2 separate regions of the Homo sapiens genome follow, and region 2 is linked to region 1. The links come from fine-mapping of genetic effects on gene expression. Tissue or cell type: whole blood. Region 1 holds a variant in brackets; the other region holds the start of a gene. All regions are shown on one strand. Distances are from middle to middle.

Evidence for each region. PIP is the estimated chance that this variant, and not a neighbour inherited with it, causes the effect.
Region 2: it holds the start of PIGB, and the variant in region 1 is fine-mapped to the expression of PIGB in whole blood (TOPMed, PIP 0.96).

What each region holds. Positions count from the first base shown.
Region 1 is chr15:55,504,761-55,512,866 of GRCh38, forward strand. DNAAF4 (dynein axonemal assembly factor 4) reads right to left here and starts at 3,474. Exons shown (of 10, transcript NM_130810.4): 1 at 3,362-3,474. LOC124903496 reads right to left here. Exons shown (of 2, transcript XM_047433411.1): 2 at 5,981-8,106. The variant G/T (reference allele first, on the strand shown) is at 3,879.
Region 2 is chr15:55,315,151-55,323,237 of GRCh38, forward strand. PIGB (phosphatidylinositol glycan anchor biosynthesis class B) reads left to right here and starts at 4,072. Exons shown (of 12, transcript NM_004855.5): 1 at 4,072-4,263; 2 at 5,125-5,260; 3 at 6,123-6,240. The coding sequence starts at 4,101. It overlaps PIGBOS1 (PIGB opposite strand 1), which reads right to left and starts at 3,973. Exons shown (of 2, transcript NM_001308421.2): 1 at 3,714-3,973; 2 at 2,034-2,717. The coding sequence starts at 2,642. The coding sequence ends at 2,478. It also overlaps a transcript of RAB27A not described here. RefSeq lists enhancers at 3,832-3,901, 3,952-4,041, 4,102-4,181, 4,252-4,331.

The DNA of each region.
Region 1 (8,106 bases):
AAAATTAACTCAAGATGGATTAAAGACTTAAATGTAAGACCTAAAACCATAAAAACCCTAGAAGAAAACTTAGGCAATACCATTTAGGACATAGGCATGGGCAAAAACTTCATGACTAAAGCACCAAAAGCAATGGCAACAAAAGCCAAAATTGACAAATGGGATCTAATTAAACTAAAGAGCTTCTGCACAGCAAAAGAAACTATCATCAGAGTGAACAGGCAACCTACAGAATGGGAGAAAATTTTTGCAATCTATCCATCTGACAAAGGGCTAATATCCAGAATCTACAAAGAACTTAAACAAATTTACAAGAAAAAAACAACCCCATCAAAAAGTGAGCAAAGGATATGAACAGACACTTCTCAAAAGAAGACATTTATGCATCCAACAGACATATGAAAAAATGCTTGTCATCACTGGTCATCAAAGAAATGCAAATCAAAACCACAGTGAGATACCATCTCACACCAGTCAGAATGGTGATCATTAAAACGTCAAGAAACAATAGATGCTGGAGAGGATGTGGAGAAATAGGAACACTTTTACACTTTTGGTGGGAGTGTAAATTAGTTCAACCATTATGGAAGACAGTGTGAAGATTCCTGAAGGATCTAGAACTAGAAATACCATTTGACCCAGCAATCCCATTACTGGGTATATATAAAAGATTATAAATCATGCTACTATAAAGACACATGCACACGTATGTTTACTGAGGCACTATTCACAATAGCAAAGACTTGGAACCAACCCAAATGTCCATCAATAATAGACTGGATAAAGAAAATGTGGCACATATACACCATGGAATACTATGCAGCCATAAAAAAGGAGGAGTTCACGTCCTTTGCAGGGACATGGATGAATCTGGAAACCATCACTCTCAGCAAAATAGCACAAGGGCAGAAAACCAAACACCACGTGTTCTCACTCGTAAGTGGGAGTTGAAAAATGAGAACACATGGACACAGGGAGGGGAACATTACACACTGGGGCCTGTTGAGAGGTGGGGGGGCTGGGGGAGGGATAGCGTTAGGAGAAATACCTAATGTAAGTGACAAGTTGATGGGTGCAGCAAACCAACATGGCACATGTATACCTATGTAACAAACCTGCACGTTGTGCACATGTACCTTAGAACTTAGAGTATAATAATAAAAAAAGTAGCTGTTGTACATTTTATCCAGAAAGGGGGTGTCTGTTATCTTATGGGTGACACAAAGACCTTGTTTTTGCCTATGCTTAGATAATGCTATGAAGTGGCCTTGTCTCATTTTATTGTGATCTCAGAGTACTTTTGTCTCAGCTTGGTATTCTATGAGATTTAAATTGTTAATGTTCAACAGAATAATATTATGGCCAAGCTGTGAGTGCCAGGTCAGCTTCTGAATATCAGGGGCTGCTTTTTGCCCTCTTTCTCAATAATAAACAAAGAGAACATATAAACAAAATATATAGAGAAAAAGAAACACAACCCCACAATAAAATGGGCAAATTGGCATAATCTTATTAATGTGAATACCTGCTTATTTTATAACCAGCAATTCCACTCCTATGTATCTATCTTAGAGATTTCTAGCAAGTTCCTAGGTGATGCTGATGCTTTGTGAACCACTGTCCTACAACAGGGTTTTTCAGCCTCCACACTATTAACATTATAGGCTGGATCATTTTGTATAATTTAGGCTGCTCTGTGCATTTTAAGATGTTTAGCAGCATCCACCCTCTTAATTCTAGTAACACTCCTGAGTTCTAATAATAAAAGTGTCTCCAGACATTGCCAAATGTCTTCTGGGTTTCAGGGGTGGGTGGGAATAGCAAAATTTCCCCCATCTGAGAATTACTGCCCTAGAAAAAGTCTTGGTCCTATACACTAGGAAACATTTATAGGTGTTCATAGCAACTTCATAGAAAAAAACCTGAAAATAAGCCAAATGTCTTTCAACAGGTATATACACAAAACAGAATATTATACAACAATAAAAATGAGTGAATGATAGCTATACATTGGATGGATGAGTGAAAAAAGCAAGTCAAATAATATCCTCAAGAAATAATGCTATTTTATACAACTTTTACTTTTTTATTTTTCTTTTTTCTTTTTTTGATGGAGTTTCACTCTTGTCACCCAGGCTGGAGTGCAATGGGGCATCTTGGCTCACTGCAATCTCTGCCTCCCAGGTTCAAGCGATTCTCCTGTCTCAGCCTCCTGAGTAGCTGGGATTACAGGCACCCACCACCAAGCCTGGCTAATTTTTTGTATTTTTATTAGAGGTGGGGTTTCACCATGTTGGCCAGGCTGGTCTCGAACTTCTGACCTCAGGTGATCCGTTCACTTCCATCTCCCAAAGTGCTGGGATTACAGGCATGAGCTACCATGCCTGGCCTTTATAAAACTTTTGAACAACGGAAACTGAATCCACTAGATAAGGATTCCTAGGTATGTGGTAAAACTATACAAACACTTCTCTACTTACAATGTGGTTACCTCCTGATAAACCCATCATAAGTTGAAAATATCCTATGTCAAAAATACATGTAAAACACCTAACCTACCAAACACCATAGCTTAGGCTACCCTACCTTAAACATGCTCAGAACACTTACATTAGCCTACAGTTGGGCAAAGTCATCTAACATAATAAGGTGTAATAAAGTGTCTAATATACCCTGTAATTTATTGAATACTGTATTAAAAATGAAAAACAGAATGGTTGTATGGGTACTCACAGCATGGTTTCTACTGAATGCATATAGCTTTTGCATCACTGTAAAGTTAGGAAATCAAAGAGAAACCATCATAAGTCAGGGGTCGTCTGTAAAGATAGGCACTAGAAAGGAGAGTGGTTAACTCTTATGTGAAGTTCATACAAGTGGGAGCCTTTTTGGTAACCAACAGAACTGATTACCACATAGTCACACTGTATGAATTAAAACGAAGGCCCGGGATGCACATTGTGTCTCACGCCTGTAATCTCAGCACTTTGGGAGTGTCACTTGAGGCCAGGAGTTCAGGTTACAGTGGACTATGATTATGCCACTGCACTCTAGCCTGAGTAACAGGGACTCAAAAATTAAATTAAAACAATAAATAAAATAAATAAATACAAATAAAATTAAATACAGAGGTTCTCAGAATGTGGTCCTCCCCACCACCACCAGCAATATTACCATCATCTGGGGACCTGTTAGAAATGCAAATTCCCAGTCTCCTTCTAGATCTATTGAACCAGAAGTTCTGGAAGTGGGGCACAGCAATCTGTGTTTTATCCAGCCTACCAGATAATTTTGATACACACCAAAGTTTGAGAACCACTAGATTAAGGGATGAGTTTTACTGGGGAAAGGGGAAACTTACAAAACCAAGAGAAAACACAGGTTTCCCCCTTCTCCCATCATCCCAAGGAGCAGCATGCTGGGGCCAGAGTAGTCTGCTGGATCCATGGTGTGGGTTTGCATAATAGGAGAGGAATCCCATCCTCTTGTTGCTCTCCTATTTATAGGGCACACACAAAAAGAATTTTGTCAGTAAGGAAACTACTAGAGCACCAGGCAGTCTGTTTACAGGCATTTATTTGTTTGTTTGTTTGTCTGAGACAGACTCTCACTCTGTCGCCCAGGCTGGAGTGCAGTGGCACGATCTCAGCTCACTGCAAGCTCCACCTCCCGGGTTCACGCCATTCTTCTGCCTCAGCCTCCCCAGTAGCTGGGACTACAGGCGCCCGCCACCATGCCCGGCTAATTTTTTGTATTTTTAGTAGAGACGGGGTTTCACTGTGTTAGCCAGGATGGTCTTAATCTCCTGACCTCGTGATGCGCCCCCCTCGGCCTCCCAAAGTGCTGGGATTACAGACGTGAGCCACTGCGCCCGGCCC[G/T]ATAGGTATTTTTTGAAAAAGCCCATTATCCAGTATCTGGAGACCTTGGGTCAAACAGAAAGTTGTTGGAACTTGTGTTGGAAGAAACTGTCCATCCCATGAAAAGCTGAGTTCAGGTGTAGCCCCTCCAACTGTGAGCCAGAAGGTCCAGGTCCCACTGGCTGGTTGCCCAGGAAAATCCAGAGAAAACACCCAAGGTCGTTTCTGTTTGATTCTGGTCATTGCATTAAAGCGTGCAATCAGAAAGCATGAAGGAGACTGACAGGTGTATTAGTCTGTTCTCACGCTGCTAATAAAGACATACCCAAGACTGGGTTATAAAGGAAAGAGGTTTAATTGACTCACAATTCTGCAAGGCTGGGGAGGCCTCAGGAATCTTACAATCTTGGTGGAAGGGAAAGCAAACACGTCCTTCTTCACATGACCGCAGCAAGGAGAAGTGCAGAGCAAAGTAGGGGGAAGCCCCTTATAAAATCATCAGATCTCATGAGAACTCACCCACTACCACAAGAGCAGCATGGAGGTAACTGCCCCCATGATTCGGTTATCACCCACTGGGTCCCCACGTTGGGATTATGGGAACTACAATTCAAGATGAGATTTGGGTGGTGACACAGCCAAACCATATCACCAGGTTATTTTTTTCCTCTCTCTGTAATTTTCAGTGATAGATTTATACTTATTCCTTTTATTATTAATAGTTTATGTATGTAAATCCATAAATTATTTTGTTTGTAAAAAATATTACAAGTTTAAAGTAAAAATTTCAAAACAATCTCTATAGTACACAAGCATACTTATTTCCTTATTTCATATCCTGAGGTTCTTAGAGAGTGTAAGCATACATTATGGAGCAAAAATTAAGTATGATTTACTATTCGTAACCTAAAATTAATTACCTATAATTTTATTTACTTTTGATGTGCAAAATTCGAAATTTTGCCATTGGAAAAGGTTGCTTTCTATGTTTTCTTAACACCACTTTGGAACTTTAAAAGGCATTTAAAAAAATCCCTCATTCTAGTAGCAAGATCACTTAGGTCCACCTTAAAGGTTTTTCTTTTCTTTTTTTTTCTCTAGGAATTGAAATTCTCCAAGAACTTTTAGTTCTATTTAGTGGAGAATAGCTTTACAGACCAAACTCTAGGCACTAGGTGTTAAATGCATTAGTTATTTTACTATTTTAAATTTGGGCTTTCGGAAATGATAATGTGATTTAAAATTAAATGAGAATATCTAGGTAGAGGTCATGTAGAATGTGAAGTGACCCTGCATAATTTTCCTTTTCTTTTGGGTCCTAATATCTTAGATATATATTTATAGGGTATGAGCTTGATTGTTTTTCCTATTAGACTTGTTTTGGCACAATACCACTTATTTCATTTTTTTTTTTTCAAAACGGAGTCTCGCTCCATTGCCCAGACTGGAGTGCAGTGGTGTGATCCTGGCTCACTGAAACCTCCACCTCCTGGGTTCAAGTGATTCTCCTGCCTCAGCTTCCCTAGTAACTGGGAGTACAGGCATGCGCCACCATGCCTGGCTAATTTTTTTGTATTTTTAGTAGAGACGGGGTTTCACCATGTTGGCCAGGCTGGTCTTGAATGCCTGACCTCAGGGGATCTACCCACCTCAGCCTCCCAAAGTGCTGGGATTACAGGTGTGAGCCACCACACCTGGCCTAGTTATTTAATTAAAAAAAAAAGTTTTAAGGGACTCTTAAGGAGAACAACTATTATTAAAGTAGAATTTTGTAGGCTTAATTAATCCTTAAAGAGGATTAATAAGGGGAGAATATAAACAAACATGAAGGTTTGTTTTTGTGTCATCCACACATTTTTTAAACATTTTAAAATTGAGTTTAGTTTATAACTGAGTAGAGTTTAAAATGTTAACATTTTGTCATTAGATAAATGCAAATTCCTATTTGTATTTATTATCTATGCCAAAACATTAAACTGTTGAAAAAATGTATTAAAGTATATCAGTATATTTAACCACATTAATTTTGAAATACAATTAATATTATTCATGAAATATTAAACCATTACCCTGTACGTGTAGCGGGACGAACCACAGACAAGAACCCCTCAGACGACACCGAGTTGTGGAAGGAAAGGGCTTTATTCAGCTGGAAGCATCAGCAGACTCACGTTTCCAAAAACCGAGCTCCCCGAGTGAGCAATTCCTGTCCCTTTTAAGGGCTTACAACTCTAACGGGGTCCGCGTGAGAGGGTCGTGATCAATTAAGCAAGCAGTGGGTACGTGACTGGGAGCTGCATGCACCGGTCATCAGAACGGAATAAAACAGGACAGGGATTTTCACAATGTTTTTCCATACAATGTCTGAAATCTATAGATAACACGAGCAGTTAGGTCAGGGGTTGATTCTTAACTACCAGGCCCAGGGCGTGATGCTGGGCTATCTGCCTGTGGATTCCATTTCTGCCTTTTAATTTTTACTTCTTTCTTTGGAGGCAGAAATTGGGCATAAGACAATATGAGGGGTGGTCTCCTCCCTTATTCCCCCACTTTGAGAACCTCAGTCAATTAGTGGGAGTTCTCACTTTCATCCTCACTACCCATGTATTCTTGCAAGACAGATCGATAGTGATTCATATAGTACAGTTGTTCTGAAGCATTTTGGTGAACTAAGGTAGCGATGAAGCTTTTTATCATTTGAAGAAGTACAGGTAGCAAACAAGGGAGCAGTAAGCAGGTTCCTATTACTAATATAACTCCTATTATAAGAGTTTTAAATCCTCCTAACACTGGGAACCATTTTCCAAACATGGCCCCAGGATCAAATCCATGCCACACTTGCATGGGCACATGTGACAGTTTTATCATATCTCTGACTATGTCTTCAACTACTTGCCCTTGATCATCTACGTGTAGACAGCAATTAGTAAGGTTAAATTTCCCACAGACCCCTCCTTCAGCTGCTAGCAAGTAGTCAAGAGCCAATCTATTTTGATAGATAGCATTTCTCATCTGAGTCTCTTGACAGGCCAGAATAGTCAAGGCTCTGTCGGTTTTATTAGTGATTCTTTCTTTCTTTTCTTTTTTTTTTTTTTTTTGAGATGGAGTCTCACTCTGTCGCCCAGGCTGGAGTGCAGTGGCACAATCTCGGCTCGCTGCAAGCTCTGCCTCCCAGGTTCACGCCATTCTCCTGCCTCAGCCTCCCAAGTAGCTGGAACCACAGGCACCCGCCACCACCCCTGGCTAATTTTTTGTATTGTTAGTAGAGACGGGGTTTCACCATGTTAGCCAGGATGGTCTCAATCTCCTGACCTCGTGATCCACCTGCGTTGGCCTCCCAAAGTGCTGGGATTACAGGTGTGAGCCACCGCGCCCAGCCCATATTAGTGATTATTTCTAAGACAGCTTGTAACCATATGATTTGGTTGAGCATGTAAATGGGGGTCTAGTATCCCCATGAACCATCTCGTCCCCAAGTAGCAGGTCCATAATATTGTATGATTCTCTCTGGGGGCCATTCATTATCTTTCCAATTTCCTATAGCTATGCTTCTTTTTTCATGGGAAGCATAGACAGGGAAGCCCAGGAGTTCGCCTGTCTTTATGGACAGTAGGAAGAAAGATGGTTTAATAGTGCCAGTAATACAACTACCTGCCCACTGGCCAGGTAATTTAGCGTAAGCTCTATGCCCACATAGCCAGTATAATCCAGTGGGGGCTGTCCAGTCCTAGTGGGACTCCAGGTGGGTCCACATGGTTTGCAACCTTGGGAATTTACTAAATGGATTCCTTTCTGTGTGATTTGAACTCCACCAAGTGACTGTTTTTGTGGTACCATTATACAGTTTCTGTCCCAGACAACTAAGTTGTCCTAAGGGGTGAGTGAATTATTTTCCTTCTCTAGCTATGCAATATTGTCCAATAATTGAGGCTTCAGGGTCCAGAAATTATCAAGGTGACTCTTTTGAGCTGGGAATTCATTGGGAACTGGGTCTGTAGGTACTAATTCTTGGGCTTCCCATGGCCATTGATCTCCCATCACAGTTCCTCCACATACATAACATGAAGTGACACTGAGAGACTGGGCTACATGCTTGGCTAATTGCAAAAACAAATTTCTTGTTTTTCCTGGAATTTCTGGTACTGGCACATTTAGTTCATCTTAGAAAGTTTGAAACACTGGCTGAGCAGAGCGTTTGTAAACTTCTCCTCGAACTAAGATATTTACTCAAGGATCCAGTCCTGCCCCA
Region 2 (8,087 bases), 190 kb before region 1:
GCAATGGGGAAAGGATTCCCTATTTAATAAATGGTGCTGGGAAAACTGGCTAGCCATATGCAGAAAACAGAAACTGGACCCCTTCCTTACACCTTATACAAAAATTAACTCAAGATGGACTAATAACTTAAATGGAAAACCTAAAACCATAAAAAGTCTAGAAGAAAACCTAGGCAATACCATTCAGGACATAGGCACGGGCAAAGACTTCATGACAAGGCCACCAAAAAGCAATTGCAACAAAAGCCAAAATCGACAAATGGGATCTAATTAAAGAGCTTCTGCCTAGCAAAAGAAACTATCGTGAGAGTGAACAGGCAACCTACAGAATGGGAGAAAATTTTCGTAATCTATCCATCTGACAAAGGGCTAATATCCAGAATCTACAAGGGACTTAAACAAATTTACAAGAAAAAAACAACCCCATCAAAAAGTGAGTGAAGGATATGAACAGACACTTCTCAAAAGAAGACATTTACGCAGCCAACAAACTTATGAAAAAAAGCTCATCATCACTTGTCATTAGAGAAATGCAAATCAAAACCACAATGAGATACCATCTCATGCCAGTTAGAATGGTGATCATTAAAAAGTCAGGAAACAACAGATGCTGGTGAGGCTGTGGAGAAATACGAACGCTTTTACACTGTTGGTGGGAGTGTAAATTAGTTCAACCATTGTGAAGACAGTGTGGCAATTCCTCAAGGATCTACAACCAGAAATGCCATTTGACCCAGCAATCCCATTACTGGGTATATACCCAAAGGATTACAAATCATTCTACTATAAAGACACATGCACGGCCAGGCGCGGTGGCTCATGCCTATAATCCCAGCACTTTGGGAGGCCGAAGCAGGTGGATCACGAGGTCAGCAGATTGAAACCATTCTGGCCAAAATGGTGAAACCCCATCTCTACTAAAAATACAAACATTAGCTAGGTGTGGTGGTGCACACATGTAGTCCCAGCTACTACGTAGGCTGAGGCAGAACTGCTTGAACCTGGGAGGCGGAGGCAGAGGTTGCAGCAAACCAATATTGCGCCACTGCGCTCCAGCCTGGGCAACAGAGCCAGACTCCGTCTCAAAAAAAAAAAAAAAAAAAGAATTTATGTACTTTGTAGGGACATGGATGAAGCTGGAAACCATCATTCTCAGCAAACTAACTAACACAGGAACAGAAAACCAAACACCACATGTTCTCACTCATAAGTGAGAGCTGAACAATGAGAATACATGGACACAGGGAGGGGAACATCACACACTGGGGCCTGTCGGGGGCGGGTGGGGGGCAAGGGGAGGGAGAGCATTAGGACAAATACCTAATGCCTGCAGGGCTTAAAACCTAGATGACGGGTTGACAGGTGCAGCAAACACCATGGCACATGTATATCTATGTTACAAACCTGCACGTTCAGCACATGTATCCCAGAACTTAAAAAAAAAAAGGAGAAAAAAAGAAAATACAAACTTAACGCTAGAGTAAAAAGTAATACCAATTCTTAGTAACTTCAAAAAAAATTTTAACTATATGAATAATAGCTTCATAATAAATTAACTACTCCCTTAACACAATTATTAATGCAAATTTGCTTAGTGGATTAAAAAACATCTGTGTCATATCTGCCATCCTCTCAAACAACATCTACCTTCTCTAAAACCTCAATTTGATCTGAGCCATCCCAACTCTCAACTACTCCTCCACACTGCCTGAGATGAAAAACGGCTGGGATTGAATGACTGCCAAAATATATTAAACCAATCTAACTGCAGGGTAACGGAGTGGATTTCTGCCTGAGGTAGTTTAAGTTGGTTCACATATCTACAAACACTATTGCAAACACCCTTCCCAATTATTATATACACACTGAGACTGGCACCCCATGATACTGCATATGCTGAATTCCTAGAAAAATAAACCTCAAGTAGAAAATATTCCTAAAATATTCACTTTTGTTTAAAAGGAAATTACTTATCTGTCCTGGTAAAAAGACATAAAATGACAAATATACAATAAACATTAAAATTAACAGTGTTAGGTTAAAAAATCATTATCCATGATTTATTTTTAAGTACATCTATGTTTTTGCTAGATTAGAGTTAACATAATTAAATGGAACTTTAAGCAATTATTACAGTTCATCTCCATGAGGTATTTGTGGGTTTTTTTGCTTTTTGTTTTTTTAGATGGAGTCTCGCTCTGTCACCCAGGCTGGAGTGCAGCAGCGTGATCTTGACTCACTGCCACCTCTGCCTCCCAGGTTCAAGTGATGCTCCTGCCTCAGCCTCCCAAGTAGCTGGGATTACAGGCGCATGCCACCAAGCCTGGCTGATTTTTGTATTTTCAGTAGAGACAGGGTTTCACCATGTTGGTCAGGCTGGTCTTGAACTCCTGACCACCTGATCCACCCGCCTCGGCCTCCCAAAGTGCTGGGATTACAGGCGTGAGCCACTGCGCCAGGCCTAACTCCATGTAGTATTAACTTTTCTTCTCTTCTGATTCTTGTACCAACTGCATCTTTTCTTTTAATTCCTTCTGATCTTTGGCATACTGTTCAAATACTGGTTGAAAAATATATACTCCTCCAGCAATTCCAAGGACAGTGGCAAAAAGCAGTTGTGCAAAAGTCAATCTCCTAAACATTGCTGCAACAAATACAGCTCAAGGAAAAGCTGGTTTTGGAAAGTCACACTCCACACCCAGGAAATCTCTTCAAATCTGCATACAAAAATGGAAAGCAAAGCCATCACTTAGTACAATGTCCTTTTAAAAGATGTTATGTCACTACTTTGCACTGGAGTGAACAATATTTTTATAATATGTTACTAATTAAAACAAGAATATAAATACATAAGGAGTACAGGAAGTGAATTAGGGAAGGGTATAAGACAAAACTAAAACCTTTTCTATTACAGAATGTTCTCAATGGTTTTAAATGCATACTTTTTCTTTTTTTTTTTTTTTTTGAGACGGAGTCTCGCTCTGTCGCCCAGGCTGGAGTGCAATGGCGCAATCTCGGCTCACTGCAAGCTCCGCCTCCTCGGTTAACGCCATTCTCCTACCTCAGCCTCCCGAGAAGCTGGGACTACAGGCGCGTGTCACCACACCCGGCTAATTTTTTGTATTTTTTGTAGAGACGGGGTTTCACCGTGTTAGCCAGGATGGTCTCGATCCTCTGACCTCCTGATCCGCCCGTCTTGGCCTCCCAAAGTACTGGGAATACAGGCGTGAGCCACCGCGCCCGGCCTGGTTTTACTTTTAACAAGAGGAGTGGGCCGCACGCGGTGGCTCACGCCTGTAATCCCAACACTTTGGGAGGCCGAGGCGGGCGGATCACGAGGTCAGGAGTTCCAGACCAGCCAGGCCAATATGGTGAAACCCCGTCTCTACAAAAAAACACAAAAATTGGCCAGGCGTGGTGGCGCGCCTGTAGTCCCAGCTACTTGGGAGCTGAGGCAGGAAAATCACTGGAACCCGGGAGGCAGAAGTTGCAGTGAGCCCAGATTGCGCCACTGCACTCCAGCCTGGACTACAAGAGCGAAACTCCGTCTCAAAAAAAAAAACAAAAACAAAAACAAAAAAAAAACCTAACAACAGCAACAACAACAAAAAAAATAGGAACCATTCGGCCTGTTTCCACATCTGTACAACAAGCTAAATCATCCCTACCCTGCCTACCTCGTTGAACAGGCATTTTTTGTGAGAGCAACGAACCTGAAATGTTAACACCAACACTGACGTCTACAATTACCGTTACCGTTTTTAATAACCACTCAGGTACCTCCGACTGTTCTGCGCCTGCTCCACGTCACTAAACTCGCTACCGCCTGCTCCCCTCCAGAGACCGGGGGCCTTCCAGCAGTTTTCGGACCCCCGAGCACAGAGACCGCCAAGCCAAAGGCGAGTAGCAATCCCTCGGTTCGGAAACGGCGAAAGGAAACCGCAAGGAGGCCACCACGTCGGGTGGGAGCTACGAAGTTGCCCGTTCCCGGTTACTTCCGGGCTTGCGAGCGACGACTGCTCTCAAAGGCCAAACTTAATGGATGGACGAGCAGCGCGCTACTGCAGCTTTCTTCCGCCTTAGGAAGGTGGCGGCCAGGGATGAGGAGGCCCCTAAGCAAGTGCGGAATGGAGCCGGGGGGCGGAGATGCCAGCCTCACTTTGCATGGTCTCCAGAACCGCTCCCACGGCAAGATAAAGCTGCGAAAGAGAAAGTCTACCTTGTACTTCAACACCCAGGAGAAGAGCGCCAGGCGCCGCGGGGGTGAGTGAGGGGACACTGTCTGGAGAGCTCCTACCCCCATCTAAAAGGAACCCCCTCCATTTCATTACCAGCCAGTTGCCCGTTGAGCTCTGTGTTGCCAGATCTTGAGTTTTGAAATGCTGGGAAATGCTGGAAACACAGATTTTAATATAAATTCTGATTTTTAAATGTTGGCAACTAAATTCAATTTTTTAAAAAATACTCTGTATTTGGCCGACAGGCTGTCCATTTGTGGTCAAGAGCAGGACTTTGGAGACATCACACAGACCCGGGTTTGAATCCTGATAAGTAATTTACAACTTTATTTGGACAAGGCAGTTTAATTTCTGGGCCTCAATTTGCTCGTCTGTAAAATGGGGCTAATAATACCTATCCCATAATATTGTTTGGAGGATTAAGTGAGATGCATGTGAAGAAATTAACACAGTGCCTGGCATATATAATAGTAATCATCAATATATATGTACAGAGGACCATTTTATATTGCACATATACAAAGGGCTGCTTCCCAAATTAGTAATTTGTTAGCTGGTTTCTTTCATTAGATACACACATAGTATGACCTAATTAATTAGCCTAAGGCCTTAGTTAACCCACTCTTTTTTTTTTGTATTTATTTTAATATTATCTTTACACAATAAGTTGCAAGAAAAGTTGGTTAAACTAAAAGAGTGGCAGTCACCCAGTGATGACGCTGTGGTGCTTGTATAACCAACCAAGTTGGCTTTAAGAATGGTGTGGAGGGACCAGAGGTCACTACTGTGCCTTACAAGGAGCCAACCAGAGCAGCAGATTTTAAGTTTTGCAAGTGGAACTGCCTGACTTTTGTGCCACTATTACCTGTTTTGTTCTGTTTTTCAGATCTTCTTGGAGAAAATATTTATCTGCTCTTGTTTACCATAGCTTTACGAATATTAAACTGCTTTTTAGTGCAGACAAGTTTTGTTCCAGATGAATACTGGCAGTCTCTTGAAGTTTCACATCACATGGTTTTCAAATATCCTTTGTGGTTTCTTTTCCAGACTATGAGTGTGTATTCATCTTGGAAATTGTGCTCAGTTTCTTTTAGAGTAGTCCCCCTTGCTCCCTCGTCTTCAGTAGATAGTTTCCAAAATCCCTAGTGGATGCTTGAAACTGTAGACAGTACCAAACTCTATATATATTGTTTTTATATATGTAAAAAATACACACACGCTTATGATAAAGTTTATACAAATTAGGTACAGTAAGAGATTAACAGTATTAAAATATAACAAGTATAACACAATACTATAATAAAAGTTATGTGAACTTTTATGTGGTCTCTCTCAAAATATCTTCATATTTTCAGACAGTGGTTGACTCTGGGCAACTGAAACATGGAAAGAGAAACCACAGATAAGGGGGGACTACTATACATATTTTCAGTTTTCCGTATTTTCCCCAAATAATTTTAACTCATCAAAGTATACCATTATTTTATACAAATATTTCTCCTGTATCTTTCTTTTATGTTAATATACTTGACACAGCCGTTAGCATACATTCCCACAGTACTTAGCACTTGGAGGATACAGAGAAAGTAAAAAACACATTACTGCCTTGAAGAAGTTAAGAGTTTAGTTGGCCAATTGAATTTTTAATGCAAATATCCAGTATAAAATGCTGTTTTAAGACTGCCACAAAATAAAATATTGTTTTATAAATGGAAATGAAAATAGATTTTGCCAGGTGAAGTGGTGTGCACCTGTAGAGGCAGGACCACTTGAGCCCAAGTTTGAGACCAGCCTGGGCAAGAGAGTGAGACCCCATCTTAAAAAAAAAAAAAACACGGAAATAGGTTTCAATATTATTGGACATTTACTCCTTAATGTTACTAATTATGGTTATTTGACTTGGGAATGGACAGAGAGACTGAGGAGTTACACTTATCCCTTAATCTTTGCAAGCATTTACAAGATTCTTCATCTTTTAGGGAAAGATAGTGTTCAGTTGCTGGTAAGTTTAAATAAAAGTAACTAAATGATATTGGGGCCATGGAATTTGTTTTTAAAAGGCTACTGTTGCTGAAGTCCAGCCATATCTGGGAAGCCCATGATACTACAGACATACTGTGATGTGTAACTCTTTAGTTTGTGCTGAAATACAAGACTGAGCATGAAAATATCCTGCTATGAGGAATCCTGTTATGATGTGCAGATTTTCAAAATGACTATATTATGTATTATTTGGACATTAGAAGTATACTTCTTTCTTTTTTTTTTTTTTTTTTTTTTTTGGGACGGAGTTTGCTCTTGTTGCCTAGGCTGGAGTGCAATGGCGTGATCTTGGCTCACCACAACCTCCACCTCCCGGGTTCAAGCGATTCTCCTGCCTCAGCCTCCCGAGTAGCTGGGATAACAGGCATGCACCACCATGCCCGGCTAATTTTGTATTTTTAGTAGAGATGGGGTTTCTCTGTGTTGGTCAGGCTGGTCTCGAACTCCCGACCTGAGGTGATCTGCCCGTGCGGTGGCTCACACCTGTAATCCCAGCACTTTGGGAGGCCGAGGCGGGCGGATCACCTGAGGTTGGGAGTTCGAGACCAGCCTGACCAACACAGAGAAACCGCGTCTCTACTAAAAATACAAAATTAGCCGGGTGTGGTCGCGCATGCCTGTAATCTCAGACTTTCTGGAGGCTGAGGTAGGAGAATCACTTGAACCCAGGAGGTGGAGGTTGCGGTGAGCCGAGATCACGCCATTGCATTCTAGCCTGGGCAACAAAAGCGAAACTCCTTCCCCCATCCCCCGCAAAAAAAGTATCACTTGAGAGCACCGTTGTATTTTGTGTTTTTTACCTTGTAAGAAGACCGTGTGATATGATTTTATGAAGTCTGTATACATCTAAACCCACTGAGGATTTAGTGTTGAAATTAAAACTTTAAAATTTTTAATTTGACAAACATTTAATGATCTGCATAATCATCGTCCTATATAGTAATTAGGCATCAACAGTAAGTAGGATTGTAATTCCTAGGCTATTAATTGCTGGGGTCAGTTGCCAGGAGATAGTACAAGGGCAGGACTAATGGTGTAAAAGTTTCTCTAGCCTCACTCCCATGATCTTTTAAGCTGTCATCAGATGAGACTCAGAGTTTGTGCTCCCCCCGATTTCTGTCAGTGGGGGTTAATGGCTCAGCATTCCAAAGGCAGTCCAAATCCTGACGTGTTTTGTGTAGCTTAGAAAGACACAGGTTCTAGGGTATTTGTTTTAAGGTGGGGTTGTACTCTCCCCATTGCAATATTTGCTTCCGTTATTGAGAAATTAGGGTTAAACCAGTGAAACCGATGCTTCAAATGGGAAGATGATGGGGAAGGAGAATTCAGAGCAGTAGCAGAGTTTCTTCCATTAACAACAGGCAGAATTTAGGAGCCGCAACCTGGCTTTTCTTCTCTTACAGTTATCTACTAGTTTATAGATTATGCAAGGTATCCATAAAGTCTGGAATCACAAGAAAATATACATAATCTCATCAATGACAGTTTATATCCCAGGAAGTAGGTCAGATTACAAATGAAGAGGTCTTCAAGATAGAAAAATTTCCTGCTCCTCCAAGACCTATCCACTGCCCTCCATCTGTAGCTGACCCACCAGGTCATTTTGTGATGTGAAGGAAGCCTCCCCTGACCTGCTCCAACCCCTCTAAAAGGAACTCATTGTCGTATCTAGAACTTGACCCTGTAGAGATTCATTAGGATATGATCAGTCATTCATACTCTCATATTGATTATTTTAAGCAAATTATATACATAATTTTGAAGCTAGAAGAGGTTGGAGAAGTGAAGTAAATAGACCAAGGTCAC